Linked DNA regions of Homo sapiens. The protein of the gene in region 4 interacts with the protein of the main gene of each other region in a biochemical or structural test. Each region holds a gene or a part of one and is shown on either strand. Other genes may lie near its edges.

Evidence for each region.
Region 1: the proteins of FZD4 (region 4) and PARD3B interact in a test that uses a peptide from one of them, tested with the Homo sapiens proteins (one large-scale study listed by IntAct).
Region 2: the proteins of FZD4 (region 4) and MAST1 interact in a test that uses a peptide from one of them, tested with the Homo sapiens proteins (one large-scale study listed by IntAct).
Region 3: the proteins of FZD4 (region 4) and SIPA1L2 interact in a test that uses a peptide from one of them, tested with the Homo sapiens proteins (one large-scale study listed by IntAct).
Region 5: the proteins of FZD4 (region 4) and PATJ interact in a test that uses a peptide from one of them, tested with the Homo sapiens proteins (one large-scale study listed by IntAct).
Region 6: the proteins of FZD4 (region 4) and RADIL interact in a test that uses a peptide from one of them, tested with the Homo sapiens proteins (one large-scale study listed by IntAct).
Region 7: the proteins of FZD4 (region 4) and HTRA4 interact in a test that uses a peptide from one of them, tested with the Homo sapiens proteins (one large-scale study listed by IntAct).

What each region holds. Positions count from the first base shown.
Region 1 is NC_000002.12:205,300,822-205,305,113, reverse strand, and holds part of PARD3B (partitioning defective 3 homolog B), read right to left. Parts: intron 3,651-4,292; coding exon 3,413-3,650; intron 1-3,412. UniProt on the Homo sapiens protein: Putative adapter protein involved in asymmetrical cell division and cell polarization processes. May play a role in the formation of epithelial tight junctions.
Region 2 is NC_000019.10:12,865,446-12,869,737, forward strand, and holds part of MAST1 (microtubule-associated serine/threonine-protein kinase 1), read left to right. Parts: coding exon 1-36; intron 37-271; coding exon 272-373; intron 374-534; coding exon 535-657; intron 658-1,207; coding exon 1,208-1,317; intron 1,318-2,028; coding exon 2,029-2,207; intron 2,208-2,284; coding exon 2,285-2,532; intron 2,533-3,197; coding exon 3,198-3,404; intron 3,405-3,620; coding exon 3,621-3,850; intron 3,851-4,292. UniProt on the Homo sapiens protein: Microtubule-associated protein essential for correct brain development. Appears to link the dystrophin/utrophin network with microtubule filaments via the syntrophins. Phosphorylation of DMD or UTRN may modulate their affinities for associated proteins.
Region 3 is NC_000001.11:232,626,952-232,631,745, forward strand, and holds the start of SIPA1L2 (signal-induced proliferation-associated 1-like protein 2), read right to left. Parts: upstream 3,183-4,794; 5' UTR 2,918-3,182; intron 1-2,917.
Region 4 is NC_000011.10:86,944,833-86,949,124, forward strand, and holds the end of FZD4 (frizzled-4 precursor), read right to left. Parts: 3' UTR 847-4,292; downstream 1-846. UniProt on the Homo sapiens protein: Receptor for Wnt proteins.
Region 5 is NC_000001.11:61,748,752-61,753,043, reverse strand, and holds part of PATJ (inaD-like protein), read right to left. Parts: intron 1-4,292.
Region 6 is NC_000007.14:4,796,490-4,800,781, forward strand, and holds the end of RADIL (ras-associating and dilute domain-containing protein), read right to left. Parts: intron 3,822-4,292; coding exon 3,682-3,821; intron 3,281-3,681; coding exon 3,141-3,280; intron 2,995-3,140; coding exon 2,889-2,994; 3' UTR 566-2,888; downstream 1-565. UniProt on the Homo sapiens protein: Downstream effector of Rap required for cell adhesion and migration of neural crest precursors during development.
Region 7 is NC_000008.11:38,976,680-38,980,971, reverse strand, and holds part of HTRA4 (serine protease HTRA4 precursor), read right to left. Parts: coding exon 4,233-4,292; intron 3,020-4,232; coding exon 2,825-3,019; intron 1,758-2,824; coding exon 1,725-1,757; intron 1,014-1,724; coding exon of another isoform or gene 981-1,013; exon of another isoform or gene 487-980; intron 1-486. UniProt on the Homo sapiens protein: Serine protease.

The DNA.
Region 1 (4,292 bases), on a different chromosome or scaffold from region 4:
TCTTCAGTCTTTTTCTGCCTATGAAGCTCACACCTTCTGCTCATCTCACTCAAATGCCCTTCTATTCTGTAGATGGGATGTGGACCAATTTATGAATCACTAATAAAATCCAATTCAATTGTTAGAACTCAATTTGCTGAAATTTTGTTCTTTTTAATTTTAATTTTTTGAGATAGGGTCTTACTCTGTTGCCCAGGCTGGAGTCCAGTGAAGGGATCATGGCTCACTGTATCCTCTACCTCCCAGGCTAAGTCAATCCTCCCACTTCAGCCTCCTGAGTAGCTGGGACTATAGGCACATGCCACCATGCCCAGCTAATTTGTGTTTTTTTCCTTTTTTTATGGAAATGGGTTTTTGCCATGTTGTTCAGGCTTGTCTTATAACTCCTGGGCTCAAGTGATTTGCCCATCTCAGCCTCTCAAAGTGCTGGGATTACATGCCTGAGCCACTATGCCTAGCTGAATTTTTTTTTTTTTTTGAGATGGAGTTTTGCTCTTGTTGCCCAGGCGGGAGTACAATGGTGCAATCTTGGCTCACCACAACCTCTGCCTCCCAGGTTCAAGCGATTCTCCTGTCTCAGCCTCCCGAGTAGCTGGGATTATAGGCATGCACCACCACGCCCGGCTAATTTTGTATTTTTAGTAGAGAAGGGGTTTCTCCATGTTAGTCAAGCTGGTCTCGAACTCCTGACCTCAGGTGATCCGCCCGTCTTGGCCTCCCAAAGTGCTGGGATTACAGGCTTGGGCCACTATGCCTGGCCAAAATTTTGTTTTTTAATATTCAGATAGCTATTATGACATCAGGCCTGCTGGGGTAACCTCACCCCAGGTGATAGCAGGACCGCAGCAAGTCTTGTCATAACACATCCAGGGGCAACATCGCTCCCAAGATTTTGAGCATGAGGAACCTTGCTTAGCATTTCATGAGCACTGGAAATGTAACGGGAAGGCTCACTGCTAAGAGGATTATTTGTATTCCCTAAATGTCACTTATATATGGAATGATGGAACTTTCTTTTCTATGTAGAAATTTCAGCTGATGATCACAAAATGAGAACAATTGGTAATAAATACACGCAGCATTCTTAAATGAGGTATCTCCTAAGGGTTTCATAAGAGGTGGCCAAACTGGCCCCTAAACCATCATCTCCCATCATTCACCTTCAGCCCACAGAAGTATAGTGATCAATTGATTTGAGAAGAAATTATAGGAGTAAAGACAGTAATAGAAAGGGGTACTTCTGCCTGTAACACCCAACAAAATAAGTGAGGGGGCTACAAGTAAACCCCTTAGGGAATTTGGAGGTAATTGTATAATAGGAGATTGTCACCCCACTTCCTACCTGTTTATTTTGTGACTTGCAAAAATTGACTGCCTCCTCCCTTCCCCATGCATGACAGCATTCTTGGGAGAGTCTGATGTGTGCTTCTGGAGTGAGGAGGCCCAGAGCTGGTGTGGGATGTGCTGGAGAAGTCTGAAGATGCAAGGCTGGTTGGAACATCTCTATGGTGGGGTGAGGAGGAGCGGTACAGTGGGAACAAGCTGTACTTGCATCATTTGGAGGGTGGGAGATCAGGAACTCTAATAAGCCAGGTAGATGCTGTGGCTGTAAGTTAAGCTAGAGCTGTCTCAAACTGGCACTGTCCAAGAAGTCTACCAGCCGGGGTAAGGAGACTCAGGGGTATATGTCTGAGGTCAGAGGCTTAGGGAAATAGGTCAGTGGGAAAATCACCTACATTAGTGACTGGTATAGTAAGGAGCACTCTAAAAAATCCACAAAAGTAGCCACAAAGATTCCTTGATGGCCAGATTATACCAGATAATGCCAGTTAAGTAAAATCCTATCCTATTGAATCTTGTCTTTGTCTCCTGGTTCCAAAGACTGAGAAATAGGAGAAGGTGGAATCCTGCCTCCCACCATACCATAGGATGCTCCTTGTGGTTCAGGTCCAACAGGCAGAAAGGAAGAAAGCTTTCATTTATATTGGATTGCATATTTTAGCCCCCGACAAACAAGTTGCTTTTTTTTTTACCCAAAAGTGACCAGAAAGCTATCAGCCAGAAAGCTGAGATGTCAGGGTGTGGAAGAGGCAGCCTCAACAGTTTATACTTGAAGGGGAGAGAAGAAACAAAGCTGTTTTCTGACTGTGCCATGTTGAGCCCCGTCTAGTCAATGAATGTATAGCATATGAAATCATATCTCACAACTGTGCTGGGTCAGTAGAGCAAGTATGCTGGCCTCATTTTAAAAGTAAGGAAAGTAAGGCTCAGGGAAGCTAAGCAATGTGTGTGAAGCCCCATTGCTCATGTGTGGGGAGTCATGGATCCAGACTTGGGCATCAGAGCCCAGACCCAGTGACATCTCCCCTGTACCACAGTGCCTCTGGAGGTGACAAGTGATGTGCCCAGAGGCCCGGCCACTGCACACCTAGAGTCACAGAGGGATGAGGTTCATCTACCCTGACTCCCCTGCTTCAAAAGAGGTATTCCAGAGGTAACACATAGGGCTTCCCCACTTCCCACTTTCCCTGTGGTGTCAGAGGAAGTATTTATTTTCATAACACTTTGGTACAAAGGACTGCAGGCATTGTCCATGCCTCTACTAAGTATTGGCCTTTCTTTTATGGTGTAATCATAGCTCACTGCAGCCTTGAACTACTGGGATCAAGCCATGCTCTGGCCTCAGCCTCCTGAGTACTTGGGATTACAGGTATGCACCACTGTGCCTGGCTAATTTTTTTTTTCTTAGAAATAGGGTCTCCTGCCTGAAACCCCAGCACTTTGGGAGGCCAAGGCAGACAAGGCAGATCACTTGAGGTCAGGAGTTCAAGACTCCTGGCCCACATGGCGAAACTCCACTCTACTAAAAATACAAAAATGAGCTGGGCGTTGTGGTGCATGCCTATAGTCTCAGCTACTAGGGAGGCTAAGGCAGAAGAATCGCTTGAACCCAGGAGGCGGAGGTTGCAGTGAGCCGAGATCACGCCACTGCACTCCAGCCTGGGCGACAAAGCGCGACTGTCTCAAAAAAAAAAAAAAAAAAAAAAAGAAAAGAAAAAAGAAAAAAAGAATAGGGTCTCCCTACCTTGCCCAGGCTGGTCTTGAACTCTTGGGCTCAAGCAATCCTCCCAGCCTCCCAAAGTACTGAGATTACAGGCATGAGCCACCGTGCCTGGCATAGTGTTGACCTTTCTTTGACAACAAACTTAAGACAGTGTCCTGTCATCACTGTAACTTTCCCCAAAAAGCTCCTCTGCCTCTGCAGAAAGAGAACGAGCACAGAATTGAGAGCCGTATGCATTTGGCTGAAGACGAGGAAAAGCGTGCGCTTTTTTCTGAGTACAGACAAAGGAGTGATTTTACCAGGAGAGACAAAATGAGAACCAACTTTGCCTTCAAAGCAGGCCCATACCTCAGCATGGCGCCGAAGCCCTTCTTCTTTATTTTCCTTTCTGGATCTTCATTCTCCTCTTTGCGCTTTTTCTCCTTGACTTTCAATTTGCCCTTTTCCTTTTTCTTCTCCTTCTCTTTCGTTTTTTTGACTTTCCTGGCTTTATTTTCCATGTCCTCTAGCTCCGAATTCCCCTGAGGGGCAGACTCACAATTCAGAGCTCCTTGGCCAGAGTGAGAGCTCTTATCAGACAGACCGTCTGTACAGAGAAAAAATAATCAATACCCATGGTCAGGGGCACACTCAGTTAGTATACAGAGAAACGCTAACATGTAAAATGCAAAAGAATGAATAACAGCACTCTGTAGTTCTACCCTTCTATGTGGTTACGTGCGCCCTTTGAAGATCTGACTGCCTAAATCTGGTTACTTCGAGCAAGACTTGATGCTGGGAGTGGGGACAACCGGTTGCTTAGCTGGTAGTATGAAAGGCTTGATATGTGTTCAAGCACTAATCTCTCTGAAAGCTGCCTTGTTAACCTTGATCAGCTCAGAAAGCCTGCATGCTGGGAAACAAACAGGGTGAGAAGAGAGTTTTGAGTACAAAATATCCCAACTGCTTCTACCCAATTAATGCAGTCGGAGTCCTTGGATTGATGCTGCCTCTAATGACTCGAATGAGAATGTCAAGAAATGCATACTTAGTGCTCCTACCCTAAGGGTAAATGACAGTTGGTCCTTGTAGAAAAGTGAAGGAGAACATTTATTTAGCCTTGCACTGTAAAATAAATTGCATATTGTGTTCTCCAATTCCATGTTCATTAAGCCAAAGGGCAAAACATATCAGGAAAATGAATTACTTTTAATATCAAAAATATAATTGTGATCCTTAAATCATTTTT
Region 2 (4,292 bases), on a different chromosome or scaffold from region 4:
ACACACCAGAGGAGCTATTTGGACAGGTCATCAGTGGTACGTGGCTTGGCAGTGTACAGGGGCAGAGTGTGGTGTGCACGGAGAGATGGACAGGCTCAGGGTTCCAGGGATTTCAAAAGCGACCCCCCAGAGGATCGCTTGCACTCAGGAGGTCAAGGCTGCAGTGAGCCATGATCGTGCCACTGCACTCCAGCTGGGTGACACAGTGAGATCCTGTGTCCAAACAACAACAACAACAAAAACCGCCCCTAAGTTCCGTTTTGTTTTGCAGATGACATCCTGTGGCCCGAGGGGGATGAGGCCCTACCTACGGAGGCCCAACTCCTCATATCCAGCCTCCTGCAGACCAACCCTCTGGTCAGGCTTGGGGCAGGTAAGTCCGCCATGCAGAGGAGCTGAGGGCCCACTGATAGAGAGCAGGCCTCCAAAACCCCAGGCCCAGCCTGTGCTGTGGCCCCGGGGCGGAAGACATGGGGGGCGGGGCTGGGCTGCTGGGTTGGCCATCAGCTGTGGCTGGAATCCCTTCCGTCCCAGGCGGCGCTTTTGAGGTGAAGCAGCACAGTTTCTTTCGAGACCTGGACTGGACAGGGCTGCTGAGGCAGAAGGCCGAGTTCATCCCCCACCTAGAGTCGGAAGATGACACTAGCTACTTTGACAGTGAGCTGGGACACCAGGCACGACCTGGGTCGAGGGGTGGGATCCGGGAAGAGGGACCCTGGGGTAAGTAAAGCCTGGGATAGGGCCTGGCTAAGTACCAAGATGTGATGCCTAGGTGCGAAGGTGGTATTTTGGTGGGGGCGGGGCCAAGTGGGGCGGGGCTGACATACAGGCGGGGCTCAGGCTGAAATGTAGGTAAGAACCTGAGATTGGGCTAGGTGTGGGGCCTGGCCTGGGTGAGTTGTGAGTGTGGGCCTGGAACTGAACTAGAGAGAGGTACTAGCGCTCAGAATGGCCTGGGGTGATGCCAGGGTGCAGAGCACTGTAGGTGGAGCGTGGCCTCTTTGGAGGCGGGGCTAGACGGTGCCACTGAGAATGGGGCAAGGACCTTGCCTGGGAGCGGAGCCTAAATTAAATACACTAATGAGGCAGGGGCGTGGCCTGACCTGAAGACTTGTAAACCCGTCTTGAACCAGGACTGGGCTCCTGTGGGGATGTGATATGAGGAGGAACCCCGTACCCTCAGTCACAGCCCATACCCGCTCCCCAGCCCGCTCAGACAGGTATCACCACGTGAACTCCTATGACGAGGATGACACGACGGAGGAGGAGCCCGTGGAAATCCGCCAGTTCTCTTCCTGCTCTCCGCGCTTCAGCAAGGTGGGCCAAGTCTGGGTGTGGGACAGGGCGAGACCCCAGGAGGGATGGGGCTTGGAGAGACAGTGAGAAACAGGTTCCCTGGTGCCCAAGGTCTCAGGAGCGGGAAGTTATTGATGGGGCGGGAGTCTGGAAGGTGGTAAGGCCACGCAAGAGGCAGGTTCGGGAGTCTATGGGACGGGCCTTTGGCACTGAGTGGAATCTAACAGGAATCAGGACAGTTGTGCAGATTGAGGCCATGGTGGGGCGGGGCTAGGTGTGGGTGGGGCGGGGTCAGGACGTGGGAATGAGGCCAGCAGCGAAGGCGGAGTAAAGCCCAGCGAAGTCTTGCTTTTATTTATTTATTTTTATTTTTTCTAATAACGGGCAGAGAAGCCATAGGCCTTGCTTTGAGAAGCAACTTGTAGAGGCGTGCAGGGCCTAGCCTGGGCTAAGGAGACATAAATTAAGGGGGTTGCTGGGAAGATGGGGCTGTGTAGAGAGCAGATTGGTCAGGGCATCGTCGGGGCAGAGCCTAGAATAAAACGCAGTGCCTAACTTTGTGGTGTGGGGCCTGAACTGAAGAATTGTAGGTTGGGGGATCATGCACAATTGGGCGGAGCCAGGCCTCGGAGGGTGGAGTGCGTTTTGCGGGGGATCCACTGCCAGGAAGCTGATTAGCTCCGGAGTGAAAGTGGAACCCGGGCTGGACTTGCCTCCCACCACCACCTACAGGTGTATAGCAGCATGGAGCAGCTGTCGCAGCACGAGCCCAAGACCCCAGTAGCAGCTGCAGGGAGCAGCAAGCGGGAGCCGAGCACCAAGGGCCCCGAGGAGAAGGTGGCCGGCAAGCGGGAGGGGCTGGGCGGCCTGACCCTGCGTGAGAAGACCTGGAGAGGGGGCTCTCCGGAGATGTGAGCAGGGGAATGGCGGAGTTTGGGGGCGGGGTCGAAGGGGGCGTGTCTTCCATAACCACGCCCCCTCCATGCAGCAAGCGATTCTCCGCGTCCGAGGCCAGTTTCCTGGAGGGAGAGGCCAGTCCCCCTTTGGGCGCCCGCCGCCGTTTCTCGGCGCTGCTGGAGCCCAGCCGCTTCAGCGCCCCCCAAGAGGACGAGGATGAGGCCCGGCTGCGCAGGCCTCCCCGGCCCAGCTCCGACCCCGCGGGATCCCTGGATGCACGGGCCCCCAAAGAGGAGACTCAAGGGGAAGGCACCTCCAGCGCCGGGGACTCCGAGGCCAGTGAGTGCCCTATCGTGCTGCCTTCCCCAATCTTCCCCAATGTCCTACTGGTCATATAGTGAGCATCCCACGAGCCTGGTGCTGTTTATGAAAGATCTCAGGTCCTATTCACATTGCAATTTGGGATTTTTTTTTTTTTTTTTTTTTTTGAGACAGAGTCTCACTCCATCACCCAGGATGGAGTGCAGTGGCGTGATCTCGGCTCACTGCAACCTCCACCTCCCAAGTTCAAGTGGTTCTCGCACCTCAGCCTCCCGAGTAGCTGGGATTACAGGCGCGCGCCACTACCCCCGGCTAATTTTTGTATTTTTAGTAGAGACAGGGTTTCTTCATGTTGGCAAGGCTGGTCTCGAACTCCTGACCTCAAGTGATCTGCCTTCCTTGGCCTACCAAAGTGCTGGGGTTACAGTCGTGAGCCACCACACCCAGCCCAATTTGGGATTCTTAACATTAGAAACACCCCAATACCATGGTCAGTCAGTGATACAGACCGATACAGACTATGTCTCTATATGAGGAGCAGTGAGGCATGCAGGTTACCTGCTCAGATGAAACTCACCATCCATCAAGGGTAAAAAGTGGAAAGAGCATTCCAGGCAGGGAAACAGTATGTGGGAAATCCCTGGCCTTGGACTAATTCCTAACACACTTGCTTTCTGTTGCAGCTGACCGTCCACGCCCAGGTGACCTCTGCCCACCCTCGAAGGATGGGGATGCATCAGGCCCAAGGGCTACCAATGACTTGGTTCTGCGCCGGGCGCGGCACCAGCAGATGTCAGGGGATGTGGCAGTAGAGAAGAGGCCTTCTCGAACTGGGGGCAAAGTCATCAAATCAGCCTCAGCCACTGCCTTATCTGTCATGATTCCTGCAGGTAATGCTGGGCCCCACCTGGCAGGGGAGGGGCTGCCCCCCATTTGAGGCAGGACAGACCAATGAAAATGCTGCATTTTCCCTGTCCACCGTGATTGGCTCCAGGCTGGACCAATGAGAGGCTGCTCTGCCACTGCCTTGGGAGGAGGGAGGAGCAGATACAGGGAGATGTCTATCTTCTTGGTTCTGATTTCTGACCATGGTTGTGTGTCTGTAGTGGACCCACATGGAAGTTCACCCCTTGCTAGTCCCATGTCTCCACGATCTCTGTCCTCCAACCCATCCTCACGGGACTCCTCACCCAGCCGGGACTACTCACCAGCTGTCAGTGGGCTCCGCTCCCCCATCACCATCCAGCGCTCGGGCAAGAAGTATGGCTTCACACTGCGTGCCATCCGTGTCTACATGGGTGACACGGATGTCTATAGTGTCCACCACATTGTCTGGGTGAGTACTCATGGGTGGAGTCTCCATCACAGAGTGGAGGGTGGTGGGGAAAAGGCCCCTCCAGCTCAAACCAGTTAGCCTGGGTGAGACACCTCTGTGACCCTCTATGCCTCTTCCCTCTCTAAACCTGTTTCTTTTTTCTTTTACTTTTTTATTTTAGGCGGAGACTCACTGTGTCGCCAGGCCGGAGTGCAGTGGCAGGATCTCGGCTCACTGCAACCTCTGCCTCCTGAGTTCAAGCCATTCTCCTGCCTCAACCTTCTGAGTAGCTGGGACTACAGACAGGCGCGCGCCACCACGCCCAGCTAATTTTTGTATTTTTAGTAGAGACGGGGTTTCACCATGTTGGCTAGGATGGTCTCAATCTCTTGACCTCGTGATTCACCCACCTCGGCCTCTCAAACTGCTGGGATTACAGGCGTGAGCCACGGTGCCTGGCCGA
Region 3 (4,794 bases), on a different chromosome or scaffold from region 4:
CAAATGAATTAGGCACATTAACAGAAGTAGAAAACCTAGAACATGGTTCACTATTCTCTAGGACTGTACTTTGTATTTCATTGAAGTTCAAAACAGAAAGAAAAAAAAAAGCAGCTTTTCAATTAACAATACCCTAGTCTAAATTTTCTTCAAATTCAGTGTGTCTTTAAAAGGATTTGTAATCCTCAACTACCACCATAAATTGATCAGAAGTTCAAAAACTCAATGCCTTCCTCAATCTCAAAAAATAACGCTGCATTTACCAATTATGGTTGGGGGCAAGGGGCTGTATCCACATAAACACATAGTTCTTTGCAAAGTATGCAGGAAACACAATCCCTTTAAACTAGTTTCGATGCCCAAACACAGTGCTTTTAAACCAGTTTCAATTACCAAACAACTGGTTTTTCAGGGTAGCTAGTATTTCCTTACTTTCAGAAATAGACTGCTAATTTCAAAATAATAACCCGCTTCTCCTTTGCCTCAGGTAAAAAGATCCCCAAGGTGGACAAGTGTTTACTAAGCTCAGGTATCAAGGAACCCTTCAAAACACCATCCCAGTCTTGCGGGGTGAGGGGGAGAAAAAAAAAAACACCTTCCAAATCCATATTACACAGCTTTAACTACAGTAAGCATCATAGAAGCCAAATCATGATCTGATAATTCCCTTATTAGACTAAAAGTTACATTCCATACAATTAAAGCTCTTTGAGAAAATCTATGATTTCAAAACATAAAAAGCATCTAATGAAAAACATATACTTAAAGCAACTGGGTAAAATCTGTGGCCCATACTAAAAGCCAGAAGCTCCACCCCCATACCTGTGATCTAGCTCTTGCTTTTCCGGATCAAGTGCTTACACTGCTTCTTATCCAGGTTCATTTCACCCCATCTATAGGTAGAATGTGGGTACTGATAAAAGCTGTTTCTGATTTCATTTCCTACTTCCCAGATGTTTGCTCTGTAGTTTTTCTTCTTTTTCCTTCAGCTATTTATGAATACACTCTAATTTAGAACAAATTCAGTATGTCTTATTTTAAGCTGGGCAAGGCACACAATAAATGATAGCTACAAAGATAATTTCAAGATATTTACTCAGCGTATAAATAAGTTTGCCTACCTAGGCAAGATTTGGACAGGCTGCCGTGATCTTGCTTTAGAATAAAAGTGCTTAAAAACATAACTGGGAGCCTGCTGCTGCTGCTGCTGCTGTTACTGCTGAAACTACGGGCTATTGTGCTTGTCATAAAAGGGCTTGTGCTTAGAAATGAAAAAATCAAACATCCTCTGGGGAGATGTCCCTAACACAATCCCTGGTATGAATCATGCAGATACTTTAACTGCATCTCTTCCCAAAATGGATCAATGGAATCTTTTAGGAAGAATCAATGTGATTTATACCCAAAACTTAAGAAAGACTGCATTTTTCTCATGAATAATACTCTCTTATAACTCTGAATCAAGCAGTGAAATTCAATCAAGCGGTAAACATCTTTTAACTGGAAATATTGTCTAAACAGAATGACAAAACTAACAGAACTCTGAATTCTTTAAATAAGTCCAAACATGAAACAAGCATTCTTAAATGATGTAACTAAATACAGTAACCAAGTTGTCTCTTGAAATTCAACTTTGGGAATGCCAAAAATAATAGGCCACCTCTCAATATCCGCAAAAATATCGGTATGTGTAGGTTTTCTAGGAAAGCAATAAAAAGCAACAGTTTGGGAGATCTTTTTTCTTCAATTACTAATTGTAACACTAGAAAAATTACAACCTAGGCTGCACACAAACGCGACTCAAATGGGCAGTTTACTAAATGTCTGTCATAAGAAAGCCATCTAGTGTTAACGTTTAGAATGGAGACTGCAGACAAAAGAGGCAAAGAAAAGAAAAATCTGTGCGACTATTTTGAACTTACTGGGCAAAGACATGAGAATCACCAAGATTCTTTGAGGGTTTTTTTCCTTGTTTTTTTTAAAAAAAAGCCATCCTTGTCAAAACCCAGTCTCAATCTAACCAAAATCCAAAATGTCTACAATTTTGTTTTGACCAAAATCATGTTTTGGTGAGCACAATTCCGTAACCAATGCACTTGATTTTTTCCAATACTCAGGCCAGAGTCATCTTGGGCTGAATTAATTTAACTCAAGCAGGTTAATGATGACAAATATCTCCCACAGGGGTAATGCCAAGTTGTTCTCTCTTTCCGAGAAGCCTCGGCTCTCTCTTGCAGATGATGAGCCGAAATTGATTCTTTGGGTTTGCGGCACGGCTGAAAATTAATCTGTAGGTGTTCCCAGGGATATTCCCAGGACGTGGGCAAACTACCCTCACTGACACGGGAAGACCCGGAGAGGCCCAGGAGCTGGCAAAGTGGGAAGAAAGGTCGCGGTGAGTGAGAAGAGCGCTCGCCGGAGGCTCCCGGTCTTACAAAGAGGGATCCGTCCCGGTGAGGGCGCGCGCTCCGGGCGCACCCCCTCTAGAAGGGGAATTAGCCCCGCAGCAAGTTCGGCGTCAGCTGGCCAGGCGCGCCGGGGAAGCTGCGTCGGGCAACCGCGAGCCCTTCCAGAGAGCGTTAGTCAGAGCGAAGTTCTGGGCACCTGGAGAAGACCCTCCTCAGTGCCTGTGTCGCCGAGACGGGAATAACCTTTCAGCCGATCGATAACTTGGAGAGAACAGGCGGCGGCGGCTCCTCTTCCAGCCGGGGATCGGGAGCGCGGGCGCATCTGCGTCTACAAGCCGGACCCTGCGCCGCGACCCTCGCACCCCCGCGCCCCTCGCACCCCTCGCCGCCGTCAGCCCCCCAAAGCGCCCCGAAGGGCATCCCCTTCCCCTTCGGGACAGTCCCCGCCTGGCCGCAGGCATCCCGAACCGACCCTCGCCACGCTGCCCGTCGGATTCCCCGACACGAACCTTCGCAACGCCGTCCGCCGGAACCTGCTACAGCCTGTGCGCGCCGGGCGGCGCGTACCCGGGCTGCCGCCTCGCCGCCCGCCGCTGCCCGGGGCTGCCCATCGGCCCGGACTCTCCCCGCGCCGGGCTCCGGCGGAGGCGGCCCGGACCCGCTGGCTGCGGCTGGAGCTCTCGGCCTGCGCTCGGGCGGCCGGCGGGGGCGCGGTGCTCCTCCTCCGTCCTCCTCCTCCTCTCGCTCCGCCAGCTCCTCCCGGGCTCCCAGTCTGCCGCGCCGGCTCCCGATGCCACCGCCCGCCCGCCCAGCGGCACCGCCCCCCGCCCGCTCTGCGGGCTCCCATTGGTCGCTGCCTGCAGGCCCCCTCGGCCCCGCCCCACGATTGGGCGCGGACGCCGTCAGTCTCACCGTCCGCCCGGCTCCGGGCGCAGCCGGTGCGCTGTTCCCAGGCCCCGCGGCGCGCGGGAGCTGCGCGTCCAGGAGGGGCCCGGACGCCCTTCTTGGGGAGGGGGCTGCGGGGCGCATCATGAGCGGCGCTGGGCGAGCTCGAGGGCCGGGCAGCCTACCTGGACCCCGGCTTCTAGAGAGCCGTCGCCGTCCTTGTCGAGACTCGCTTTCGCCCCTCTGAGGAATAAGTTAAAAACCGCGAGTCTGGTTCTGAGCCGCCCCCTGGCGCAGGCGCGACCCCACCCGGCCCTCCCGTCTCCCAACTTGGGACAGACGCGGCGGCCGGGCGGTCGGATCCGTGAGCCTCGGCCGCTGGGGCTACATACACAGCCCAGGACGCCACAGAATCGCCGAGGCCCCGCGAACGCCCAAACGGCCGCAAGTCGAAGTGATCCCATCTGAAGAAGACAGCGCGAGGAAGCGAGACCCTGCTGTGTGCCGGCCCCCGGAGGGCGCCCCGGGCCCTGTGGGTCGGAGGGTGGGGAAGCACAGAGAAACACGCAGGCAGTAAAACGTTAGGAGGACAGGGGGTGCCAGCGTGCAGGAAATGCTGCTAAGAGACCTTTAGGAGCCAAGGGGAAAACGGAGAGATTGGCAGTTCCAGGCACCCACATCCCAGCGCGGTCCGCTCACCCCTTCCTCCCTGCCCTCCAGGCAGCGCTCAGCCCACGGTAGAAATGTCTTGCATCTTTTTTCCGACGAGGAAGAATTGAACTTTTTATACCCAACTTTTCTGCTTTCTTAGAAATGTTGACTCACCTGTGAGGAAGCATTATTTGAAACTATTATTGTAAATTGCTTGACATTTGAATTAGATGCTGAAAGATTAAAGGGTCTCAGAAGAATCTTTTAAGCTAGACTGGAATTGACTCTGCCTAAATGGACAGCAACAGTCATCTATACGCAGGAATAATAAAGCAGGTGGAGGCAGCCTCTAACTTACCTTCCAGCCACACCGTAGAATTTCCTGAGCAGGCTTTTTTGTCAGAGTTTTGAGCTGGGTTCCCTGAGACTGGATTGGGGCTTTCAGTTTCTCCCCTTCTAGAGTCAGACTTCTTCCTGAAGAAAAAGTGTTATCTCTACTTCCCTATCACAAACACTTCCTAGAACACAGCCCTGTTAAAAGGTAAATAGAGGCGGTCCTTCCCACACTATATTTCTCTGTGATCTGAAGCATGTACACATTATACAATCTTTCGTATCTTTTTAAATTATAGGTATAATCTGTGGGATTAGATATAACTAAACAGGTCAAGAAGCAATCCTGTGACATAATACAATTCCTGAGCACTCCAGGTTTTGATGAGTTTCCCAATTGTCACCCCATTATCAGCATTTACAAGATTGTCATGTATTCATTTAACAAACATTTATGAAGCCGGGCGCGGTGGCTCAAGCCTGTAATCCCAGCACTTTGGGAGGCTGAGGCGGGAGG
Region 4 (4,292 bases):
AATCTGCAGATAAGGAGAGTAGTACTGCAGATCCTTGTTCAATGGGCTTTTTACTCACACCAAAACAGGGTGGTATTCAAGTGAAGCTAAAGGGTGGCAAGCAATTTAAAAGCAAACCAAGAGGCCTGATGTTCACATCTGGGACATCAGCAGACGGTGATGGCTCTCCTTCCCTCTGTATGTGAGGTCTATAATATTACTGACTCCCATAACAATATCCTGATAGTAGCTTTGAATTTGCTTTGTCCGATGACTTTTCTGGATATGGGGACACAGACCATCCAATTTATAAAATTAGCTAAAGAAGCCACTTTCCTGATTGACAAATGTGACATATGCCCATGTCTATTACACAAACAGAACCACTGGGTAGCCAGAAAAAAAAAAATCTGAAGAAAAAAAAAGCCCCCTTTCCCTTCCCTTTTTTAAGAGGCCAAAAGTTCTAGCAATGATGGGAAAACTCTTTTTTAGGCCATCAGATTAAGTCAATGGGGCTTGAAAGGCAAAGACAGCCATATGCACTGAAAATGCCAAAAAAAAAAAAAAGAGGTGTCATTGGGATAACAACTTGAGAACTATAGTTATATCCAAAGCATCATGTGACCTACTTGAGTGTTACTGATGACCATATTAGCAATCAATTCTGTTGACCTTAGACTGTGGGGGTTTGCTGACGCAGGAGAAATCCCACAGGGGAAAAAGAGCCCCAGCAAAAAAGAAAGAGGCCCTCAGAAAGCAGTTCCCAATCTGCCCTACAAACTGAATCCTCTATTTCTCACTGCTGGGTGTATATGCTTCCTAGTGGCTGTCATATACTTTCAGAAATATGCCAAGTCACACACAACCTAACAAACAAAACTTTATTTTCCTTTAATACAAAATTAAATAGCAAGGGGTTTTCTTTGTACAGTGATAAATTAGAAATTTACAGTACAGACATCGATGCAGACATACTTTTGTACATCCTTAAAAGCAGGGTCCATTTCCTTTGAAATTTAGCAATTCATTCAGGGCATGTGTAGCAGGAAGTTTGCCTGGTACCTCTTTGTCAAACATCTGAAAGTCCCCCAGATTGGCTTCAAGGTTCCTGGAGCTGTGGGGTGGCATGAGGACCCAAGAAAGGCCACAGAGCATCCAGCCCGACTGCTGCACAGAGCAGGGGAAGTCACATTTTATCTTTTTTTCAGATTACATCCGATATTTCATCTACCTTTCTTACAAAGAGCTCAAGGGGCCATCATTTTTTGACCTTTTCAAGCCTCACAACATCCCTGTGAGGTAGACAAAATTCAGAAACACCTCCATGCCTCACTGGGAGAGATCTAGAAAGCAGCTTACCCCTCCCAAAGCCCACAGCCAAGTCAGGGCCCCAGCCTATTAGTACAATTTGAAAACTTTCACAACCTCGGAGAGAAGATGGACCCAACCTTTGTGGCGCAGAGTGGCTCTTGCCCCTCTTTTCAGAAGCCTTCTAGGATGACAGTGGTCATGTACTGAATATTGTAGGAGAGCAAGGAGGTTTAAAAGCTTTGAGGACATGGCTCATATAGGACCCCAAAAAGGTCCTCTACAAATTGCCTGGGGAAATTCTGGGAATTGGCTGATGCAAAGAAGAAGAGAAAAAAGGTACATCAGAAACAGAAACATGCTACTATCAGGGCAACTGAGCTTGCCAAGGGGAAGAGGCATGTCGGGGGATCTGTAAGTCATTTGTCTCCTGGTACTGTCAAGTGTGTAATCACCGCACAAGTGCATGGCAAGAGACAGCAACAGAAAGCTCTATGTAGGCTAGAGTGAAATGAAATCTATTATGTGGGGCTCCAGTATCTGATCCTTGGTAGGAGCAAAATGCTCTCTAAGGAGTTTCCAAGATCTATGATCTAACCCTGGAGGAAAAGTGATAACCCAGGTCATTTGCCAGACATAATACAAACCCAGAAGGGAACTCTAAACTCAAATAAAATAAAGGAACCAATAGGATTTTCAGAGTCCAGTGACTCGACATGATTGACTGGAATAGCAACTCTCTCCAGTGTCCTCCATCACAGAACAAAATACAAGACGTAAACTGATTTTAAGAGGTTCCTTCCAGGCCAGGTGTGGTGGCTCACACTTGTAATCCCAGCACTTTGGGAGGCTGAGGCGGGCAGATCATGAGGTCAGGAGTTCGAGACCAGCCTGGCCAACACAGTGAAACCCCGTCTCTACTAAAAATACAGAAGTAGCTGGGCGTGGTAGCACGCACCTGTAGTCCCAGCTCCTCAGGAGGCTGTGGCAGGAGAATCACTTGAACCCAGGAGGCAGAGGTTGCAGTGAGCCAAGATCGTGCCATTGCGCCCCAGCCTGGGTGACAGAGCAAGACCCTGTCTCAAACAAACAAACAAACAAACAAACAAACAAACAACAAAAAAAAGGTTCCTTCCAAAGTCTGTGCTCAATGGCTCCCTTCCCTAACTGCAGCTGTGGTCACCTCACCAGAAATCAAATACTGCACCGACCTGGTGAAATCCCTGAGTCTATTCCTCTAGGGCTGAGACTGTTGAGCTCATCTTTGTGTCCTCAGGTCCCATCTTGGTTCTCAATACAATAAGCATTTAATTCAGTGACCATGAGGATGAGGGGAGCCAGAGAGTATAGAGCTAAAAGGTGCTGAACAGAATCTCAATTCAGTATCTAGACACACAAGCTTCCCGGAACCTGAGTTTGGAGAGTGCAGGTGAGACAGTGACCTGGGAGAGGAAAATCAGAAAGCATCTCTGAAATTAAAAAAATGTCACCCCTTCTCCAGTTTCAGGCCCAAGTAAGTTGCCAGTTCAGCAACAGTCTCAGAGATCAGGAAATGGGTCTCCATAAAGGAAAGAGGATATGAATCAACCAAGTAGCTCAAGCAGATGGTTCTGGCCAGCACCACTCTACCCCCATGTTCCCTTGCCCTGAGGTTTGGCCTATATGAAGCAGGAGAAAGGAATCTACCAGAAAGGAGGTTGGACAGAGGTGCCATTGCACCATGTTTAATCTCTGGAGGCCAAGGGATTTCTGAGGAAGCTACAATCATACCCATTTACTGTAGGTTTCAGAGAAAGAAAAACAACCCTCACCTTTTCTCTAGCAAGATGCTGTCCTCAAATATACCTATACAAGTCACATGGAATACCCCAAGCCCTGAATTGCCGGCAAAGCCAAAGCAGATGTGTGGGCCCATGTCCTTGTGGCCTACTCTCATAGTCTTCCTAAGGGATTTCTCCAGAGACTGTCACGAAGCAGAGCTGATGCTTTCTGTTAAAACCACCTGTAACTGACTTGGAAGGAATCCTGGGAAAGGGATGAGAGATGTGTTAAAAGTAGAGAGACCCAGGCTGGGTGTGGTGGCTCACACAGGAAGAGATTTATGGAATGGAGACAGTGAAACAGATGGGAATTCCAGAGGTCCCTGCTCCTTTCCCAGAGGAACAGTAAAGTTCAGCAGACCTGGGTGCGTCCCCATCCTAGATCAGTTAGAAGAACAGAGATTATCTATTTCAGGGCTTTACTACAGTCGGCACTCAATAAATAAAATAACTGATTTTTTTAACAAATACCGATTTAAGAAGTGATGGAGTTGATTGAAGGTCACTGGTAACTGACCCCTCAGCCACAAAGTTCTTTTCCTGAAACCATAAACACTCTCCATTGTCTGGAATGTGAAAGGAGAGGCCTATAACCCTGTAGCATTGCTAAGGCTACTAATCCAAATGGCCACTTCTGATCAAATACACTTTGCCCTGAAAAGGCAAGAGATTTGTGGAAAAGGCATGTCAAAACCCAAAGCATTGTCAAAACACTAGCTCCAGAACTCAAAACTCAGAAATCAGGTGCCCAGATTCACCCAAGTGCTCTTTTATTGTTATTATTTAGTCATTGACAAGTATCGATCACCTACTCCATGCCTGGCTTTCTGCTAGATGCTGCCTTGGTCACACAATCACTGACACATTATGAAGAAAACTGCATTACAAACCTCTATACTCTAACAGCAAGACCAGTCCCCTACCGCCTGGTCTTCCTTCCCCTGCCTGGGCCAGAGTCCCTGCACAACTCCCAAGACACCAGAGCAGAGCGTGAGTAAGGGCAGGCTCTGCCCCTGGGTGCGTGCTCCAGGGCCGTGGACAGTTATGGGAACTGTCTACAAGCAGCACAGGGAGTTCACATTTTACATTTCATAGGCAATGGAGTATCAGATGGAGTTAAAATGGTTCTTCTGGGGATCAATTCTCATGCTCCTGGAGCCTGACCTAGAGTCTAGCCAAGGTACT
Region 5 (4,292 bases), on a different chromosome or scaffold from region 4:
TATGAGGTACTGATTAAACGAAAAACAAACTTTCCTAGCCAAAGAATAATGGTTGCTCTCCACCAGTACTTCAAATAAATACATCTGCTGCCATACAAATGCAGATTCAAGTCAGGTGTCCTAGCATTGTGTTCCTACCAAATAACAAGACTTTTCTAAATACCTTAAATATAAAAATACTATATTTTGGACCACTATATCCCTGGAATTTGGGAAACATATATAAATTCCAGAACAATCCTGACAGTTTGCAGATATATGCTTAAGCCTAAGCAATGTTTAAATCCTCCTGACAGTGAACATTCAGGAAATGTTGAAATTGAAGTTGAAAGACACCACTTTAAATTCAGAATCTGAAATTAAAACTTGTGAATAGTGCTTCAATGAACATAAATAAATTTTTTAAAAAAGAAATGAAGGCCAGGCGCGGTGGCTCACCCCTGTAATCCCAGCACTTCGGGAGGCCGAGGCGGGCACAAGGGAGGCCTTGGACCACAAGGGCAGGAGTTTGAGACCAGCCTGGCCAACGTGGTGAAAACCCGCCTCTACTGAAAATACAAGAATTAGCCAGGTGTGGTGACAGATGCCTGTAATCCCAGCTACTCAGGAGTCTGAGGCAGAAGAATCGCTTGAACCTGGGAGGCAGAGGTTGCAGTGAGCCAAGATTGTGCCATTGCACTCCAGCCTGGGTGACAGAGCAAGACTCCGTCTTAAAAAAAAAAAAAAAAAAAAGAAAGAAATGAAAAGAGTCAGTTTTTCAGAATAATTCAGTTAACTCATGCTAATTTTCTCATTAAACTATTCAAAGTTAACCAATGCATATCAATACTCTTCCTATAACTTGGCCACTTTTGTAGGAACAAAGTTAAACTGCTATATGGTAGGCTTCTTTTTTTTTTTTTTTTGAGATGATGTTTTGCTCCTGTTGCGCAGGCTGGAGTACAATGGAGAGATCTTGGCTCACCACAACCTCTGCCTCCCGGGTTCAGGCGATTCTCCTGCCTCAACTTCCTGAGTAGCTGGGATTACAGGTATGACCCACCACGCTGGGCTAATTTTGTATTTTTAGTAGAGATAAGATTTTTCCATGTTAATCAGACTGGTCTGAAACTCCCAACTTCAGGTGATCCACCCGCCTCGGCCTCCCAAAGTGCTGGGATTACAGGCATGAGCCACCACGCCCGGCCTTTTTTATTTTATTATTATTATTATTTTTTTGAGACAGGGTCTCACTCTGTTGCCCATGCTGGAGTGCAGTGGTGCGGTCTTGGCTCACTGCAACCTCCACCTCCAGGGTTCAAGCAATCCTCCTGCCTCAGCCTCCCTAGTAGCTGAGACTACAGGTATGCACCACCATACCTGGCTAATTTTTGTATTTTTAGTAAAGGCAGGGTTTTACCATGTTGGTCAGGCTGGTCTTACACTCCTGTCCTCAGATGATCTGCCTGCCTTGGCCTCCCAAAGTGCTGGGATTACAGGCTAGAGACAATGCACCCAGTCTATGGTAGGCTTCTGTATTCTGGTTGGTAGCAGTTTTCTCCAACGAGCAACAATGACAAAAAAAATCTGGGCAATTTTCACACTTAGAGGTCTCTGATCATGTAGCCAGTCCCCACTAAAAAGACCTGGGCATTCATACTATTCACTAATGATTAGTTTCCACCTCAAAAATGCTATTCAATTTTACCCGCACTGCCGACTGTACACTCCCAGCTTCTCCCCAGAAATTATGGTCATATCAGGAATCAGGCGTGGTGGCTCACGCCTGTACTCCCAGCACTTTGGGAGGCCAAGGAGACGGATCACTTGAGGCCAGGAGTTTGAGACCAGCCTGGCCAACATTGTGAAACCCCGTCTCCACTAAAAATACAAAAATTAGCCAGGTGTCATTGTGCACACCTGTAATCCCAGCTATTCGGGAGGCTGAGGCAGGAGAATCACTTGAATCCATGAGGCAGACATTGCAGTGAGTGGAGATCGCACCACTGCACTCCAGCCTGGGCAACAGAGTGTGAGACTCCATCTCAAAAAAAAAAAAAAAAGTAAAATAAAATAGAAAAGGGAAAGGGATACTATGAAAAAAGGTAAAAACAAAGCAAGGAAACATAGATGCCATTGGAGAGAGTTAATTCCATGGGGAAGGGGTTCAACTGTTAGTGACCTTTCAGTAGATAACTACTTTAAAAATGAGAATACTTCAAATTTTAAATGGTGGGAAGATTTACAACCTGACCCTCAACATTCACTTATCTCCCTCTTCTACCACACTACGTCCTGGAACTTCATTACAAGCGCCGAAAAATGGGTCGGGCGTGGTGGCTCATGCTTGTATCCCAGCACTTTGGGAGGCCGAGGCAGGCAGAACACCTGAGGTTGGGAGTTCAAGACCAGCCTGACAAACATGGAGAAACCCCCGTCTCTACTCAAAATACAAAAATATTAGCCAGGCATGGTCGCGGGCACCTGTAATCCCAGCTACTCAGTAGTAATAGTACCAGGAGAATCACCCGAACCCGGGAGGCAGAGGTTGTGGTGAGCCGAGACCACACCATTGCACTCCAGCCTGGGCAAAAATAGAGAAACTCCATCTCAAAAAAAAAAAAAAAAAGCTCCAGAAAATAACCCCAAGGGATACCAGGCAGAAGCCCTGCCCACCAGCCCCTATTGTCAAAGCAACATCCACTAATTATTATTAATGGAAGCTAAAGTGAAATGAAACTGACCTGTCCCTGAAAGCCCACAGACCCAGGCCTAAAAGCCATCTACCAAACCAAGCAAGGTGTGCAAAGGGTCAAAGCAAGGGCAGGACCTTGGTCTGCTTTGGTTCTAAGAGTACAACCTACATTAGAGAATGTTCATCTCACAGTGGTTCCACTAACTTCTTTGAACTATGAGGCAGCTTCCCAAGTGCAAGCAATCAATACAGACAAAATTCAAATGTGAAATTCTTAAAACACACATTGTCCTGGTTTACAATATTACTGTTCAGCAGGTTTTTAAACTTTATATAAATTACATCATACTGTATACTTATTCTTCAGCAACTTGCTATTTTAAGCTCAACTTTACATTTTTAAGATTTATTCATCTGTTATCCCAGCACTTTGGGAGGCCAAGGCAGGCAGATCACTTGAGCCCCAGTTTGAGACCAGCCTGGGCAACATGGCAAGACCCCATCTTGACAAAAAAATTTAAAAATTAGCCAGCTGTGGTGGCACACACCTGTACTCCCAGCTACTCAGGAGACTGAGGTGGGAGGATCAGTTGAGCCCAGGATGTCTAGGCTGCAGTGAGCCATGATCACACCACTGCACTCCATAGCCTGGGCAACAGAGTGAGACCCTGTCTCCAAAAAAAAAAACACCAGGCTGCGGTGAGGGGTGTTATTCATGATGATATAGGCAGTTCCTGCTCAGCCACTGTAACAACTAAGTAACATTCGATGGTAGGAATACATACTTTCTTCACCCAATCTCCTGTTGACGAGAATTTAGATCATTTCCTATTGGTCACTAATACAAAAACAGGATTAGAACTAAATGTGTACTTCAATAATCAACTTTTTGCCAGTTGATTCAATAGCCAATTATTGAAATATGGGAAATTCTATAGCCTATGAGCTTTGAAATCAGAGACTCAGGGTTTATCCCTAGGACCCGCTCTGTAGGCCAATTGTTTAAATCTCCCTACACCTCAGTCCCCTTGTTTGTAAAAAAGAGTTAATAAAAATTACTTCATGGCTGGGTGTGGTGGCTCACGCCTGCAATCCCAGCACTTTCAGAGGCTGAGGCGGGTGGATCACGAGGTCAGGAGTTCGAGACCAGCCTGGCCAACATGGTGAAACCCCTGTCTCTAATAAAAATGCAACAAGAGCAAAACTCTGTTTAAAAAAAAAAAAAAAATAGCTGGGCGTGGTGGCGGGCACCTGAATCCCAGCTACTTGGGAGGCTGAGGCAGAAGAATTGCTTGAACCCAGGAGATGGAGGTTGCAGTGAGCCAAGATGGTGCCACAGCACTGCAGCCTGGGCAACTCCATCTCAGGAGAAAAAAAAGAAAAAAAAAATTACTTCATATGTATACTGCAAACACTAAAGAGGATAATTTAGAGCATTTGGCCTAGCACATGGTACACATTCAACAAATGATAACTACTATTAGCATCTCTTTTCAATCAAAATGATTTAAAACATGGCAAAACCCCATCTCTACAAAAACAAAAACTAGCTGAGCGTGGTGGTGCGTGCCGGTGCGTGCCTGTAGTCCAGGCTGAGGTGGGAGGAACCCTTGTGCCC
Region 6 (4,292 bases), on a different chromosome or scaffold from region 4:
TGCTGCTTGCCATTGAATTATACACTTTAAATAGCTAACTCTATGTGAATTCCACTTTAACTTAAAAAGTGGTGACAACTGAATATGTACAAAGCGTAACTGCTATATTAATAGTAACAAGTCAACGTCGGTTTTCAGGTTTTGCAGTGGGAGAAGCTGGTGGAGGTACACGGGACTCTGCTATTTTTGCAGCTTCCTTTGGATCTATAATTATGTCAAAATAAAATGCTTTTAAAACACAAAAACAGGCCGGGCACGGTGGCTCACGCCTGTCATCCCAGCACTCTGGGAGGCCGAGGCAGGCAGATCACCTGAGGTCAGGAGTTTTGAGACCAGCCTGGCCAACATGGTGAAACCTGGTCTCTACTAAAAATACAAAAATCAGCTGCGTGTGCTGACAGGTGCCTGTAATCCCAGTCAGGAGACTGAGGCAGGAGAATCACTTGAACCTGGGAGGCGGAGGTTGCAGTGAGCCGTATTGCACCATTGCACTTCAGCCTGAGTGACCAGAGTGAAACTCCATCAACAAAACAACCAAAAAACAAAACACCCATAAGAAGTGTTACCTTTCACAGTGTTGTAGATTGTCTGGGGCCTGGCTGGGAAGTCGTTCTGCTCCACGTGGTGTCCCCGGGATCACTGGTGGGACTGCATTCGCCTGGAAGCTCAGCAAGACCAGAACAGCCAGTGGCAGCCCTCACCAGTCCCGCACCTCAGCTAGGTGCTTCAGCGGCCAGAGGCTAGCTGGGCCTCCCCGACTCCACGGGGCCTCCCTTCCTTGGGGTGATGCCAAGAGCTTCTTTCCATGGATGCTGAGTTCCAGGAGCATGAAAATAGAAACCAAAGGCCCTTCAGTCTGGCTTGGAAGGTCCCAGAATATCACTTATGCTGCATCCTGTTGTTCGGAGCAAGTCAGAAGGCCGGAGAATATTGCAGGGAAGAAGAGATAAGCCCCCTTCTCTTTGTGGGAGGAACTGTTGGTGGCCACCTTTGGAAATGCCTTGCCACTGTCTTTCCTCTGGCCACAGTCCACACCCCTCCCACATAAAAAATATACTCAACCCCCTTCCACCGTTAAGGCATCAAATCAGAGTCCAGGATCCTGGGATCTGCACCAGGTCCAGAAATGCAGACCGTCCAGAGCTGTGAGACATTCTCGGCAGTGCTAACACACACGTTGTGGGACTCCTAGGAAAAGAAACAGAACAAGGCCAGGCATGGTAATCCCACGCCTGTAATCCCAGCACTTTGGGAGGGCAAGGCGGGCAGATCACTTGATGTCAGTTTGAAATCAGCCTGGCCAACGTGGTGAAACCCTGTCTCTACTAAAAGTACTAAATTAGCCAAGCGTGGTGGCAGGCGCCTGTAATCCCAGCTACTCAGGAGACTGAGGAGAATTGCTTGAACCTGGGAGGTGGAGGTTGCAGTGAGCTGAGATTGCACCACTGCACTCCAGCCTGGGTCACAGAGCGAGACTCCGTCTCATAAAAAAAAATTAAATATTTATATTTTATATAATAAAATATAAAAAATGTTTATAAAATATACGAATATATTACGTATACATGAATATGTAATATATTCATATATAATTATATATTTATATATATTCATATATTTTACATATCTTAAATATATATACAAACACTATATATATATATATATTTTATCCAGTATTTTGGGAACCTGGCAGTGGTCGCCGTTTCGAGCCAGGCGCAATGCGGAGCCGCACACAGAACTGCGGGTCGGCAGAGGGCGCGGGGCGGACGCGCTGCACCTCGCCGTAGCGCACACCAGGGGGCAGCGTGGAGCTGCACGAGGCCCAGGGCCTGGGACAGACCCAGGACACCGATCTGGGGACCCCGCACAGACCTCTGTCCCAGTGAGAGGTGCATCTGCAACTGATGCCGGGACCCTCTTCCCCAGGGTTTCTCTGTTGCTATCAAAGATGACCCTGGGCCACCAGTTCCACCACAGCCAGGAGGGCGCGGAAGCCACCCACACCCAGTTGGTGGAGCTGCTGAGGATGCCCAGCGACCCACGCTGTCACCCCGAGGCAGCAAGTGCCCTGCCCTGGTCCTGCGCATGGTCAGCCAGCTGGTGGAGAGGGACGCTGGCCTCCTGCCCGGGTTAGGGCCGGTGGCCAGGGGGACGCTGGTGAGGATTAAGGGCCTGGGGCCGCCAGCCTGGTATCAGGGCCACGCTGGTGGCTTTAGTAGGGGAGAGGAACTCAGGAGGGAGCAGGAGTCCTGGGAGAGGAAGCAGGGCCCAGGGTGGGCTCGGCGCCTCAGAGACCATCAGGCCGGTCCACTTTCCAACGCCTGGGTGTCTAGACCTTTCTCTGGGGCCTGTGCTGAGCAGCGGGATCAGAAGTCCAGCATCCTCTGCCAGGTCTGGCCCTGCTTCAGCTGGGAGGGGCTGTTGGAGCTGCTTCCTGCAGTGCCCTGTGTCTGGGTGGGACGGGGGCAGGGAGAGTCAGTTCAGATGATCCCCTGATGACAGCTGTCACTGCATTCTCCCGTGCCGGTGGCAGGCAGAGGCCATGGGGAGCCCCTGCGGCCCCTCCGAGCAGCCCACGCCTGCTGCCCGAGTTGAGACCCCAGCAGGGCACCCTCTAAGAACGGGAAAAATAGTTTATTGAACCGTACTTCTCCATTGAAGTCTTTAAACATAAAAGCTCTGTAACAAACATCACAATTTCACGTCATCTGCCATATAAATAGAACCTACACTGAGATGCATGTTATCAACAGGCATGTCCCCAGGGTGAGGCTCCCCACCCGGGACCCAACTTGGTCAGTTACAAAACAGGGACGAAGGCGGGAGGAAGCCCAGTGTCACCAGGTGGGACCGGGTGCCGGGCCTGTGGGGGTGTCCTCGCAGCCCCCCTAGAGAGGGGGCGTGCGGAAATGGATCTTCTTGGCTGTTTCCACGTCGGACTTCGCGACCAGGAACCGCATCTTCTTCCCGCCATGACGGATCAGGTCCACAGCTCTGAAATCCATGCCAGAGGTGGGGGTGGGCAGGAGGGCACCAGGGGAGACCCACAGGGTGCAGCCGGGCCTCTCCTTTACCCCAGGTCCACTCCCCTGAGCAGGGCATCTGGGAGAAGGGGCCGGGCGTGCATGCGGTGGGGGTACCTCAGGTAGCCAAGGCCCAGGAGGCTGCTGCCATTCACCTCCAGGATACGGTCCCCCAGCGACAGGCGCCCGTCGGCCGCTGCGGGGCTGCCCGGGAGCAGGGTCTGGATGTAGAGCCCGGGGGCGCCCAGGTGCGTGTGCTGGGGACAAGCAGAGGCCTCAGAGCTCCGCAGGCCCGACTGGCTGTCCCCAGCGAGGACCACTGCAGCCCCTCCCTTGGCACCTACAGGCCCCCGCCTGGCATCCAGCCAGGCCCACTCATGGTTTCACGCGTCCCTCCAGAAAAGCAGTGGACACCACCGTCCCCACAGGCCCAGGACAGACCCCAAAGGCTTGAGGACAGAGGCAAGAGACAGCAGGCCCAGGGGGCGTGGCCGTTGGACAGGCTGGGTTCCCCTCCCAGCTGCAGAGGCCAACCCCACTCTCCTCCCCGAAGGCCTTCCTGTAGCCACGTGGCCACGCAAGCTGCGGCCAGGCTTGCATGAACAGGCGGGGCCAGGCAGCCAGTATGGGGGTGCGGCGAGGGTCCTGGGCCACTCACCATCCCGTCGATCAGGCCCATCCCCAGCCCGGAGGGGCCTCGTTCCAGCTCCACCGTGAAGACGTAGCAGAAGTCCTCGGTGCTGGAGCTGCGGCTGGACGGGGCTGGAGGGGACTCCTCCGCAAGGGCTGCAGAGTCTCCTGGGTGGGGGCCAGGAAAGGTGGGTGGGAGTGAGGCGCCAGGAATCACGACGAGGAATGGGATGTCCTGGCCTGGCTGCCTCTGTAGGGCGTCAGGGATGGGATGGCCTCCTGTGGCTCCCAGGAGACGCTGTTCAGGCAGAATGTGACCGGCAACCCAGACATTAGGGTCGGGGTCCGCCCATGGGCGACACCCCCATGTTCCCTGAGGGAGCACCTCAGTCCCCGCCCCTGGCAGTCCCAGGACACTCGCCCCTCTGGGGGCGGCTGTTTTCCAGCTCCAGGGACCCACGCGGTTCTGTGCCACCTCCTCAGCAATCTCTGCTCCTCCTCCTCCTCCCTCCACACCCAGATGTGGCCATGTGCACCCTGAGGGTTCCCACCGCTGACCAGACCGGGGCCCCAGGCCCTAGCCCAGCCCAGCCCAAGCACCTGCCCTGAGGGCCACCAGCTGGTGCCCTCTCCATAATG
Region 7 (4,292 bases), on a different chromosome or scaffold from region 4:
TTGCCTTTTTATTATTTAAAAGTAAAAATAAACATGGAAAAGGTAAAAAGCTGTGGGATTGTCAGTAACACTGCACTGAGAATTAGCAAAATTGACCTTAGGGAACAAAGCTCTGCTAAGCTAAAGGTATGAGGTAGAAAATATTTTCCTCTTTATGTACCTCATCTTCCTTTAGCCTTTTAGGTAATGGGAAAGGATAAAAAAGAGATTTCTTTTTTTTTTTCTTTTCTTTTTGAGACGGAGTCTCACTGTGTTGCCCAGGCTGGAGTGCATTGGTGCAACCTTGGCTCATTGCAACCTCTGCCTCCCGGGTTCAAGCGATTCTCCTGCCTCAGCCTCCCAAGTAGCTGGGATTACAGGCGCATGCCACCATGCCCAGTTAATTTTTTTTTTTTTTTGTATGTTAGGTAGAGATGGGGTTTCACCATGTTGGCCAGGCTGGTTTTGAACTCCTGACCTCAGGTGATCCACCCACCTCAGACTCCCAAAGTGCTGGGATTACAGGAGTGAGCCACCGTACCCAGCCAGAAAAGAGATTTCTGATTGTGTTAAACTACAGATTGTAATTCAGTAGGTCGGGGGTATGGCCTGAAATTCTGCATTTCATCCCTGCTCTAGTAAACTCATTGTCTAATGGAGAAGGCAGGAACAAAACAAAGAAAAATGACATGCAATGCTATGAGTAAAAAAAAAAAAACAATCATTTTGCATAAAATTCATTCTAAAAGCAAATGTAATATTTAAACAGGAACCAAAAGCAATCAGTGCAAAGGGACTCAGAAAGGATGATCACATGCTATGTGTCAAACAGCATTGCACTCTCTTAGGTTTTCACATGTATTTGGGCAACTAGAAACCCTGACATTTCCACTAGAGACACGGAATACAATTTAAGAATACATGACACGGCAATGTATTTGAGAGGCCAAGGCAGGCAGCTCACTTGAAGTCAGGAGTGCTGGTTGTGGCTTTTCTCTCATCTATAAGCAGGTCAAGAGGTCAAGACTAAAAACCTGGACAGATGACATTATGTAATTAGCATTTTTAAATGAGAGATAGTTCTTCATATGCAGCATCAAGGAGTCTTCAAGGACCTACATTTCATAGCAAAGCTGGTCATTTGGCATAAACCTGGGTTTAATATCCAGGGCTTTTGGCACAGCATGGTGGCTCATGCCTGTAATCCTAACACTTTGGGAGGCCAAGGCAGGAGGATCACTTGAACTCAGGAGTTTGAGACCAGCCTGGGCAACATAGTGAGACATCGTCTCTATTAAATAAATAAATAAATAAATAAAATCCAGGGCTTTGGGTAACTAGCCAATGAAAACAGAAAGCACGGGGAAGAGAGAAATTTCAAAGGAAGCCGGAGCTAGAACCCTAGTGTTCTCAGTGGGATGAGATCACACACCAGGATAACAATCTTGAATTTTTTCTAACTATTGACTTAAGGTCCAAGAACAGAAAAGCACCATTCCACAGCTCTCTACACAAGAGTGGCACCCAAGTCTGCATCATGGAATATGTAAAGTCCTTTTTTGTTTTTGTTTTTGTAGATATGGTGTCTTGCTGTCTTGCCCAGGCTAGTCTCAAACTCCTGGCCCCAAGCAGTCATCCCAAATGTGCTGGGATTACAGGCATGAGCCACCACCCCTGGCCTGGAATTAATAAAGTCTTTGAAAGTTAAGAAGAAACATGAAGCAACAAGGAAAGTGATCACTTACCAAGTTCACCAGAGGACCACCAGAATTCCCATACTAAAAGCAGAATTTGAAAAAGACATCAGTGAAGCTAATGAATACATTCCCCCTTGTCCTTTACACATAGCTCCCAAAACAGTTTACCAAAAGCAGCCCACCAAGCTCCTATTCCCCCCAGGCCGGCAAAATTGTGCCCCTATCATCACCAATACCAAAGTCAGTGTAGGTAAAGAACTATAGCAGTGGGACCACCACCTTCATTTTTTTTTTTTTTTTTTGAGACGGAGTCTTACTCTGTTGCCCAGGCTGGAATGCAATGGCGCAATCTCGACTCACTGCAACCTCTGCCTCCCGGTTCAAGTGATTCTCCTGCCTCAGCCTGCTGAGTAGCTGGGATTACAGGCACCCGCCACCATGCCCAGCTAATTTTTGTATTTTTAGTAGAGACAGGGTTTCATCATGTTGGCCAGACTGGTCTCGAATGCCTGACCTCATGATCCACCCCCTTCGGCCTCCCAAAGTGCTGGGATTACAGGCATGAGCCACCGTGCCTGGCCAAGGGACCACCACCTTCTTACAGGAGGGGTGACCTCTACAACAGACCACCTAATAGCATGGATGCCAGCGATCACAGCGAACGAGACAGACTCTAACAAAGTGGCATTCCATTCCTCCCACAGTGATTCAACCAAACCTGGACATCCCCAAAGTTCACTCTGACATATTCTTCTCACTGAACTGCCAATATTGTGTGATCTGAGGAAAGGCCTCCTAAGTCAGCAATCCCCAAACTTTTTGGCACAGGGACCGGCTTTGTGGAAGACAATTTTTCCACAGACGGAGGGGTGGTTTGGGATGAAACTGCTCCACCTCAGATCATCGGGCATGAGTTAGATTCTATAAGGAACATGCAATCCAGATCCCTTGCATGCGCAGTTCACAATAGGGTTTGCACTCCTATGAGAATTTAATGCCGCCACTGATCTGACAGGAGGTGGAACTCGGGCAGTCATTCTCACTCGCCCATGGCTCACAGCCTGCTGTGCGGCCCAGTTCCTAACAGGCCATGGACCTGTACTGGTCCACAGCCCATGGGTTGGGCACCTCTGTCCTAAGTGACTTACATTAATTGTGGCATCAATCTGGACGTAGTCCATATCTGAATCCTTCATCCCCAGTTCTTTGCCCCCTCGCTGTTTGGTGCTGACAATTCCTGCAGTAGCTGTGTTCTGCAGAGAAAATGGGCTGCCCAAAGCCACCACAAACTCTCCAGCCCGAAGGTCAGATGATCTTCCCAGCATCAGTACAGGAAGTTCAGCCTGCACGTGCCCAAAAAGGGATGGGGAGGACAGAAAGGGTAAAGAACAAATCACGATCAGAATTGACCAAAGTGTGTGTCTAACACATATATGACGCTGTCTCTATCACCTTGGCCCTTACCACCTGAGAAGCACCCACTCACACAGCTTCTATGATTGCCTTCTACTTCTTCCTCAAAGTCCAACTACCATGAAGCTCTTGAGTGTTAAGATGACTAGGATCATTTCTAAGATCTAAAACAATTACTTTGTAGAAATTACTATTAGTAAACAGCCAGTGAAGTCACTGATGAACATAAACTGACATTAGGAATTTACACAGCACCATTCCAGCTCAAAGCTTAACAGTCAAAGTGAATAAGCCACAAACAGAAAGGAGATCACCCAGGGTGACACTTCTCACACTGTAATGTGCATGCAAATCACCTAGGGATGTTATGTTAATGCAGATTCTGAGTCAGCACATCTATCTGGGTAAAGGCTGAGACTCTGAACTTCTAAAAAGCTCTCAGACACCATGTCAATATATGTGATGTGCAGACTACCAGTACTATGTGTAGGAAGGACTTCAAAGTATTCCTTAGCAACTTTGAGTCCATCGCAGTAATTTCTGATATCCTAAGACAAGTAGAGAAATAATTTTCCCTGAAGCAGCATTTGTTGAAGGAGGAAAAAAAAAAAAAAAAGACTGCTTGATAGTTAATAGAAACAGTTAGAGGCCAAGCGCAGTGGCTCACACCTGTAATCCCAGCACTTTGGGAGGCCGAAGCGGGCGGATCACTTGAGGTCAGGAGTTCGAGACCAGCCTGGCCAACATGGTAAAACCCAGTCTCTACTAAAAGTACAAAAATTAGCCAGGCGTGGTGGCAGGCACCTGTAATCCCAGGTACTCAGGAAGCTGAGGCAGGAGAATCACTTGAACCCAGGAGGCAGAGGTTGCAGTGAGCTGAGATTGAGCCACTGTACTCCAGCCTGGGTGACAGAGGGAGACTGTTTCAAAAAAAAAGAAAGAAAAGAAAGAAACGGTTAGGGATATACAGAAAGGCGTTGAAGCAAATAAATAAAAGAGGGAGTAAAGAACAGAAAGAAACCAGAGAAAAGCATATATTCAACAGAAAAGATGTGGTGTGAGAGTGTAGTGGGGCAGAAAATATCAGCAAATAGATAAAAATCCCCAAATATGTAGACTCTGACTCAGCCCTGAAATACTCACATTTGATTCAATCTTAATCACCGCAAGATCCAATTTAAGGTCAATATCCTTGACAACAGC